Homo sapiens: one gene and its partner. The protein of the gene in region 2 purifies or fractionates together with the protein of the main gene of each other region. This does not show direct contact. Each region holds a gene or a part of one and is shown on either strand. Other genes may lie near its edges. The genes, in order: SMO and C1orf159.

Region 1 (3,807 bases), on a different chromosome or scaffold from region 2:
TCAGTCTCTCCTCTACCGCCCAACCAGTACCATGCTCTATAGACTGCTCTCCACTCAACTGAGTCCATGTAACATGACAACATTGGACATCATTCCATTTCAATGCACATCCTGTCATGCACCCCAGAAGGAGATTTTGGTTAACAATGGACCACATGTGATGGTGTTCCCTTAAGATTATAATACCACATTTTTACTGTAGCCTTTCAATGTTTAGATATGTTTAGATACACTGATACTCACCGTTGTGTTACAGTTGCCTGCAGTATTCAGTATAGCAACATGCTGTACAGGTTTGCAGCCTAGAAGCCATAGGTTATACTGTATCAGCTAGGTGTGCAGTAGGCTATACCATCCAGGTTTGTGTAAGTACACTCTGATGTTCACACAAAGATGACATTGCCTGATGACACATTTCACAGAAGATATCCTCATTGTTAAGCAACATGTGACTATATCTCAACCCTGAATAGTGTTCTATTATAATGGTGTACATTATTTTACTTGGTTGGTCTCCTATTGATGGATATGGATTCAAGCTGTTTCTACTTTTTTGCTATTGCAAAACAGTGCTGCAATGAATAATCTATATTATCTTTGTGAACATGTGAAGTAGAAGTACTAGTATAAAATTTTGGTAGATAATGCCAAAGTGATCTCCACAAGTGTTTACTAATTTTTATTCCTACCAACAAATATAAAAGTGCCAGTTTATCCCTACACTCTTTATAGTACGGTATTTTCTTTTCTTTTTTTTTTTTTTTTTGAGATAGAGTTTTGTTCTGTCACCCAGACTGGAGTGCAATGGCGATCTCGGCTCACTGCAACATCCGCCTCCTGGATTCAAGCAATTCTCCTGCCTCAGCCTCCCAAGAAGCTGGGATTACAGGCGCCCACCACCACACCTAGCTAATGTTTGTAGTTTTTTAGTAGAGACGGGTTTTCACCATGTTGGCCAGGCTTGTGTAGAACTCCTGACCTCAGGTGGTCCACCTGCCTCGGCCTCCCAAACTGTTGGGATTACAGGCGTGAGCCACCACCATGCTCAGCCTTCTTTATGTTTTTAAAGGCCATTAAATGGCCTTGAGTCCAGGAGTTCAAGACCAGCCTGAGCAACATGGTGAAACCTTGTCTCTACAGAAAAATACAAAAATTCACCAGGTGTGGTGGTGTGAGCCTGTAGTCTTTGCTACTCAGGAGGTTGAGGTGGGAGGATTAACTGAACCTGGGGAGCTGAAGGCTGCAGTGAGCCGTGATTATGCCACTGTACTCCAGCCTGGGCAACAGTGTGAGACCCTATCTCAAAAAATAAAAAAATAAAAAAAACATAAAGAGATGTTCGACCTCACTCTTAATAATACAAATGTGGAATAAACTACAACGAAATATTCTTTTTTTAAACTTTTATACTTTTTATCACAGTGATAAAGATCAAAACATTTGAAAATGTGATCTGTTATTTGTCTTTCGCCTGTGTGTCTATAGAATTATGCAATTTTTACTGATTTGGAGGAGCTTTGTGCATATAAGGAAATTAGCTCTTGTGATAAGTATTGAAAATACATTTTTTCAGTATCTTACTTTTCTTATGATTTTTGTATCGATTTTTCTGAAGTCTTTTGTTTAAATCTTTTATTTCATGATGTGTAGGCTTTGTGTCATTTCAGAAGGCCTTCTCCACTCCAAGGTTTAAAAAATCATTTCCTGGCCAGGCGTGGTGGCTCACGCCGTAATCCCACTTTGGGAGACCGAGGCGGGTGGATCACGAGGTCAGGAGATCGAGACCATCCTGGCTAACACGGTGAACCCCCGTCTCTACTAAAAATACAAAAAAAAAATTAGCCGGGTGTGGTGGCGGGCGCCTGTAATCCCAGCTACTCGGGAGGCTGAGGCAGGAGAATGGCGTGAACCCAGGAGGCGGAGCTCGCAGTGAGCCGAGATCACATTACTGCACTCCAGCCTGGGCGACAGAGCAAGACTCCATCTCAAAAAAAAAAATCATTTCCCATCTTTTCTTCTAAAACTTTAATTTTTAGAAAAACAATGTAGTTATTTTTTTATCCATCTGGACTTTTATGTAAGAAATGGGGTAAAGCTCCACCTTATTTTTTCCCCAGATAATTTCTTAGTTGTCCTTGAAGATGTATTTAATAATCTCTCTTTTTCCTGGGGAGTTTTATTTTTAAGGTATGAAACAATATTCACAATGAGGGAAAAAAAGGAAAACAAATTAGACATTTTTAAAACCTGATTGTTACCACAGATATAAAAAGATTGAGAAAAATTACAGTTTTTTTTTTGTTGTTGTTTGTTTGTTTGTTTTAATGAGTCTTGCTGTATCACCCAGGCTGGAGTACACTGTCGTGATCTTGACTCACTGCAACCTCCACCTCCTGTGTTCAAGCAATTCTTCTGCCTCAGCCTCCCAAGTAGCTGGGACTACAGGCGTGGACCACCACGCCTGGTTAATTTTTATATTTTTTAGTAGAGACAGGGTTTCACCATGTTGGCCAGGCTGGTCTCAAACTCCCGACCTCAAGTGATCTGCCTGCCTCAGCCTCTCAAAGTGCTGGGATTACAGGCATGAGCTACCGCACCTGGCTGACACAACCTTTATTTTTTTTATTTTTCGAGACGGGGCCTTGCTCTGTCGCCTAGGCTGGAGTGCAGTGGTGCCATCTCCGCTTACTGCAACCTCTGCCTCCTGGGTTCAAGTGATTCTCCTGCCTCAGCCTCCTGAGTAGCTGGGATTACAGGCATGTGCCACCACATCCAGCTAATTTTTGTATTTTTAGTAGAGACAGGGTTTCACCATGTTGGCCAGGCTGGTCTCGGACTCCTGACCTTGTGATCCACCCGCCTCGGCCTCCCAAGTTCTGGGATTACAGGTTTGAGCCACCATGCCCAGCCGACACAACCTTTTTATTAACTGCCTGATGTTTCTCTAAAGCATTTTACTCCAGAGAGGTCCCCCCATTTTAAATATATTGTGCAATAAAAGTAAACATCCAGTAAAATTGACTTTTTCTTGTACAGTTCTAAGTTTAGACAAACACATAGACTTATGTAACCAGCCACCACATTGAATTCAAGATAGAGAATCGTCCTTTAACCCCCATATATTCTCTCATGCTACTATTTTGTAGGCAAATCCTGCCCTCACCCCAATCCCTGGCACCCACTGCTCTGTTTTCTGCAAGTACCTATGTACTCAGAATTTCTGGTGACTGTTTTTGGGTTTTTTGTTTTTTATTTTTTTGTTTTTGAGGCAGAGTCTCATTCTTTTGCCCAGGCTGGAGTGCAGTGGCGCCATCTCAGCCCACCGCAACCTCCACCTCCTAGGTTCAAGCAATTCTGTTGCCTCAGCCTCCCGAGTAGCTGGGATTACAGGCATGTACCACCACGACCGGCTAATTTTTGTATTTTTAGTAGAGACGGGGTTTCACCTTGTTGGCCAGGCTGGTCTTGAACTCCTAGCCTCAGGTGATCTGCCCGCCTTTGCCTCCCAAAGTGCTGGGATTACAGGTGTGAGCCACTGCGCCTGGCCAACTGGTGACTGAATTGAGTCAAGTGGGAACTGTTGCCTGAGGACATTGCTTCTTAACTGGCAGGAACTTGCTCTGCACCCTGGAATATACTCTGAAGGCTGGGAGCAGTCAGAGGCCTCAGACAAATAATCATAAGAGTTAACATTTCCTGAGCGCTTACTACATGACAGGTACTGTGCCAAGGGCATTTAAAGCATTATATCACTTTTCACAGCAGTTCCATGAGGTAAATCTATCATCCCCATTTTACAGATGAGGC
Region 2 (4,251 bases):
TCAGTCTCTCCTTCAGCCTCATGTCCTTCCATCAAATTCTTTCTTCTGAGGCAGCGAGAATCGAGGCCGCTGCTGACATACTTTGGTGCTGAAACTCAGATACATTCTGCCAGTAATAGAGCTCTGAAGGCTCACCTGAGCTCCACACTCCACCTCGGCACACGCAACCCTCAGCCAGAGTGGTGAGAAGAGGTGGCTCTTTCTTTTCTTTGTGAAACAGGCTGGAGTGCATCGTTGCGATCTCGGCTCACTGCAGTCTCCACCTCCGGGGCTGAAGCGATCCTCCTGCCTCAGTCCCTCGAGTAGCTGGGACTGTTAGTGGCAGAATATGTCCCACTTCTGACACCAAAGCATGTTAGCAGCAGTGAACCTCAATTTTTCCCTCCTCAGAAGAGTTTGATGGACGGGTAGGAGGCAGAAGAGACCTTAGAGCAGGAGCAACAGTTTATGAAGAAGCTTTAGAGCAGGAATGAAAGGAAGTAAAGCGCCCTTGGAAGAAGGCCAGGCAGGAGACCTGAGAGATCAAGTGCGCAGTTTGACCTTTGACTTAGGGTCTTCCACGCTGGAGGCTTCCGGGGTGTTACGTCTCCCGATTCTTCCCTCGGGGTGGGCCGTCCACCCGCACAGCGGCTGCGGGCACTTGGGAGGGAGCATGCACAGAGTTTACTGGAGTTGTGCGCACGCTCCCTCGAGGCCTTTTTTTTTTTTTTTTTTTTTGAGATGGAGTCTCGCTCTGTCACCCAGGCTGCAGTGCAGTGGCGCAATCTCGGCTCACTGCAACCTCCGCCTCCCGAGTTCAAGCGATTCTCCTGCCTCAGCCTCCTGAGTAGCTGGGACCACAGGCGCCCGCCACCATGCCCGGCTAATTTTTGTATTTTTATCAGAGACGGGGTTTCACCATATTCGCCAGGCTGATCTCAAACTCCTGGCCTTCTGATCCGCCCCCCTCCCCCCACGGCCTTGCAAAGTGCTGGGATTACAGGTGTGAGCCACCGCGCACAGCCAGGGCCGCCTTCTCTTACCAGCCAAATGTCCCTGGTAGAGGGGGGCCCCTCTTCTGCCCTGCTCATGTCTGACTAGCTACCTACTGTAACGGGCCACAGGTGCTTGCCCCCATGCCTGGATAATATTTTTTATTTTTTATAGAGACGAGGTCTCCCTATGTTGCCCAGACTGGTCTCAAGCGATCTCCCACCCCAGCACCCACAGCGCTAGCTGTTCTTTAAATGAGCTACCCAGTAAGTCAAAGCTCAGGTGGAGAGCAGCCGCAAGGCAGGGAGCAGCTGGGAGGTATCTCAGGGGTTCCCGGGATGCTGCCTGTGCACCCCAGGGCTGAGGTGACTGCGTGTGGAAACACCTGCCTGACTGGCTTTTAGGAGGAGTACTGGGGGCGGGATGTGTGTCAGGAAAACAACGTTTCTGTATAATTCATAAACATGTATGTTAAAAACAACGTGGCCATGACGGATCCTGGCTGAATGCAAACGGGGAACATAAACCTGAGTAATCAGGCGCATCACTGAACATCCCAGGCGGCCGCCCCTACCCTGGGGCTCAAAACCGGCTCCCTCTGCGAGGGTTTCCCAGGTTAAGCCATCAGGAAACAGGAAGACGCCTAAGAACGATACACTGGACTTTGGGGACTCGGAGGGAAGGGTGGGAGGGGGACAAGGATAAAAAGCTACAAATAGGGTGCAGTGCGTACTGCTCGGGTGATGGGAGCACCAAAATCTCACAAATCACCACTAAAGAGCTTACCCATGTAACCAAGTAACCAAACACCACCTGTACCCCAGTAACTTACGGAAAAATAAAAGAGGAAGACGCAGCTCTGCCTTCTCTGCACACCCTGGTAATACTAAGAAAAATGAAAACCAAAAAAAGGAGGCCAAGTTTGACATCCTGAAATTTAACAGGACGAGGCGGCTAAGAATTCAGCCACAAAATAGTTCCCGGGGAAGAAGCCGCGTTTGCTTTGAAACGCGGTAAGAAATGCCCCCGAACACCTGGGCTTAAATTACACCCAAACTCAATCATCGACTCGCTGCCACCGGAACACGCGCTCCCGAAAAACTGCACCCCGACTAGCCCTCGGCTACTCCAGGTGACAAACGGACAAAAACAAATCCTAAAGCCTCGCGGGAAAAAGACCTGAATCGTGGCCGACTTCTAGGACACCGGGGACCGCGCCGGTGCCCCCACTCCCGGCTGCCGGGAAGGCGAGGCGAACGCGCCCCCTTTCTTCCCCCGGGCGCCCGTCCCATCCCCTCCCCAGGGACCCCCTCCCTGCCCCGAGAACCCCCTCCCCTCCCCAGGTGCCCCCTCTCCCCCAGAGACCCCCTCCCCTCCCCAGGGACCCCCTTCCCTGCCCCGGGAACCCTTCCCCTCCCCAGGGACCCCCCTCCCTCCCCAGGGACCCCCTCCCCTCCCCAGGGACCCCCTTCCCTGCCCCGGGAACCTTTCCCCTCCCCAGGGACCCCCCCTCCCCGCTCCGGGAACCCCCTCCCCTCCTTAGGGACCCCCTCCCCACCCCTCCCCGGGGTCCCCCTGCCCTCCTCAGACGCCCCTTCCCCTCCCCAGGCGTCCCGCTCAGCCCGGGCGCCTTTCCCCCATAGGACCGCGGCCAGGCTCGTTGGGAGGCGGCGACGAGGACGCGGGCCCAGGCGCTGGCGGCTCCTCCGCGCGCCGCACAATGGGGGACGCGCAGGGAACGTCCCTCGGGCCGGGCCAGGGCCGCCGACCTTTGTCTGCCTCTCGCACTCCCTGCGCCGACCCGGCCGCCCAGACGGACCCCAGCGCCCCAACCCGCTACCCTCACGCCTGCCCCCAGCCCCTCACTCACCCCGGCGCCCTCCGGGTTTCTCTTTCGTACACCCCGCCCTCAGGCGGTGGCGCCGCGCCCCCTGGGACTTGTAGTCTTTCTTCCGCCCCGGCCCCGGCGCCAGGCCCCGCAGCTCCCAAAGAAAACTACAACTCCCGGCGGCCCGCGCGAGAGCCGCCCTCGCCTGGTGGTACCATCGCGCGCGGCCGTGGGTGGGGCGCCGGGGCGGGGCGCGAAGCGCCCTGGGAAATGTAGTCCTAGAAGAACCAGCGCATGTCTCGGGTCCCTGACACGGAGGGACTACATTCCCCCGGATTCCTCGCGCGCCGGCTGCTTGGCGTTGCCGGGAGACGGGGCGGGGCGTCGTCGGGGTCTCCCGGGCGACCGCACAAGCGTCGGCGTCCTTAGCGTTCCGCCGGTTTAGGCGGAGGCGGAGGCGGAGCGTTTGGGGGCGGCCGGGGCGGCTTCGGCTTCATCGGAGAAGGCGGCGCGGCTGCACCAGGTTTGGCCGCGGGCGCGCGGGGCCAGCGCCCTCCAGACCCACGGAGCGCCCCGAGCGCCTCGCGAGCCGCCGCCAAATGCGCCCCAGGTCCGCGGCCGGCGCCAGTGCTGGGACCTCGGCGGCCGGTGTCGGAGCGCGGCGGGAGAGACCCTGCCTTGGGTGCGGGACTGGGACGGCTCGGACCCAGAGGGCTCCCGGGGCTTCGCCTCTCGGACGGGTCAGGGCTCTGCGGTCTCAGGACGCTCCCCCGTGAGTCTCGGCGGCCCCGGGGTCTGGGCGGCGTCGCTGCCCCACAGGCCGGGCGCGTGGGTTTTTCCGGGGCTCTGCCTCTGAGCCACCCTCGGAGAAAAGACAGCTCTGTGCGTCCCGCGGCGCCCGCAGCTTTCGGCAAACATGTTTAAAGGAGCTCCCCGAAGGAACTGGGGACGTCCGTCCGCTCATCAAAGGCTTCAATCCTGTCGGTGTCCCCGGGCCCTCTCCTAGCTGGGCCAGCGCGCAGGGTGGGGGGGCGCTGCAGGTGTCGCGGCCCCCCCCAACCTCCGCAGACCCTTCCAACCCCTCAGACCCCCCAAAACCCCCAGATCCCCCAACCCCCCATATACCCCCAACCCCTCAGACCCCCCAACCCCCCAGACCCCCCAACCTCCCAGGCCCCCAGACCCCCCAGCTCCCTTGCTCCCGGGAGCTCCCAGGCCCGTCCTGCATGCGCCTTGGGGTTGTTCCTCCTTGATGGACGCCGCCTCCGGGTTCCATCCCAAGTTTAAATGCCAGAGATTTCAATGGAAATAAAGCCCCCATCTTAACAGCGTGAGGATGTTTTGTAAACAGTATTGGGGACAGCTGGGGAAGTCACATTTGTGTCTTCTCTTTAGAGGGACAGTGTTCGCCTGAGGGTCCATCCCAGGGTTCCCTCAGGGCCTCTGGAGGA

Evidence for each region.
Region 1: the proteins of C1orf159 (region 2) and SMO fractionate together in Homo sapiens (co-fractionation; one large-scale study listed by BioGRID). This does not show direct contact.

Annotation. Positions count from the first base shown.
Region 1 is NC_000007.14:129,198,434-129,202,240, forward strand, and holds part of SMO (protein smoothened precursor), read left to right. Parts: intron 1-3,807. UniProt on the Homo sapiens protein: G protein-coupled receptor which associates with the patched protein (PTCH) to transduce hedgehog protein signaling. Binding of sonic hedgehog (SHH) to its receptor patched prevents inhibition of smoothened (SMO) by patched.
Region 2 is NC_000001.11:1,113,218-1,117,468, forward strand, and holds the start of C1orf159 (uncharacterized protein C1orf159 isoform 2 precursor), read right to left. Parts: upstream 2,873-4,251; 5' UTR 2,843-2,872; intron 1,859-2,842; exon of another isoform or gene 1,805-1,858; intron 1-1,804.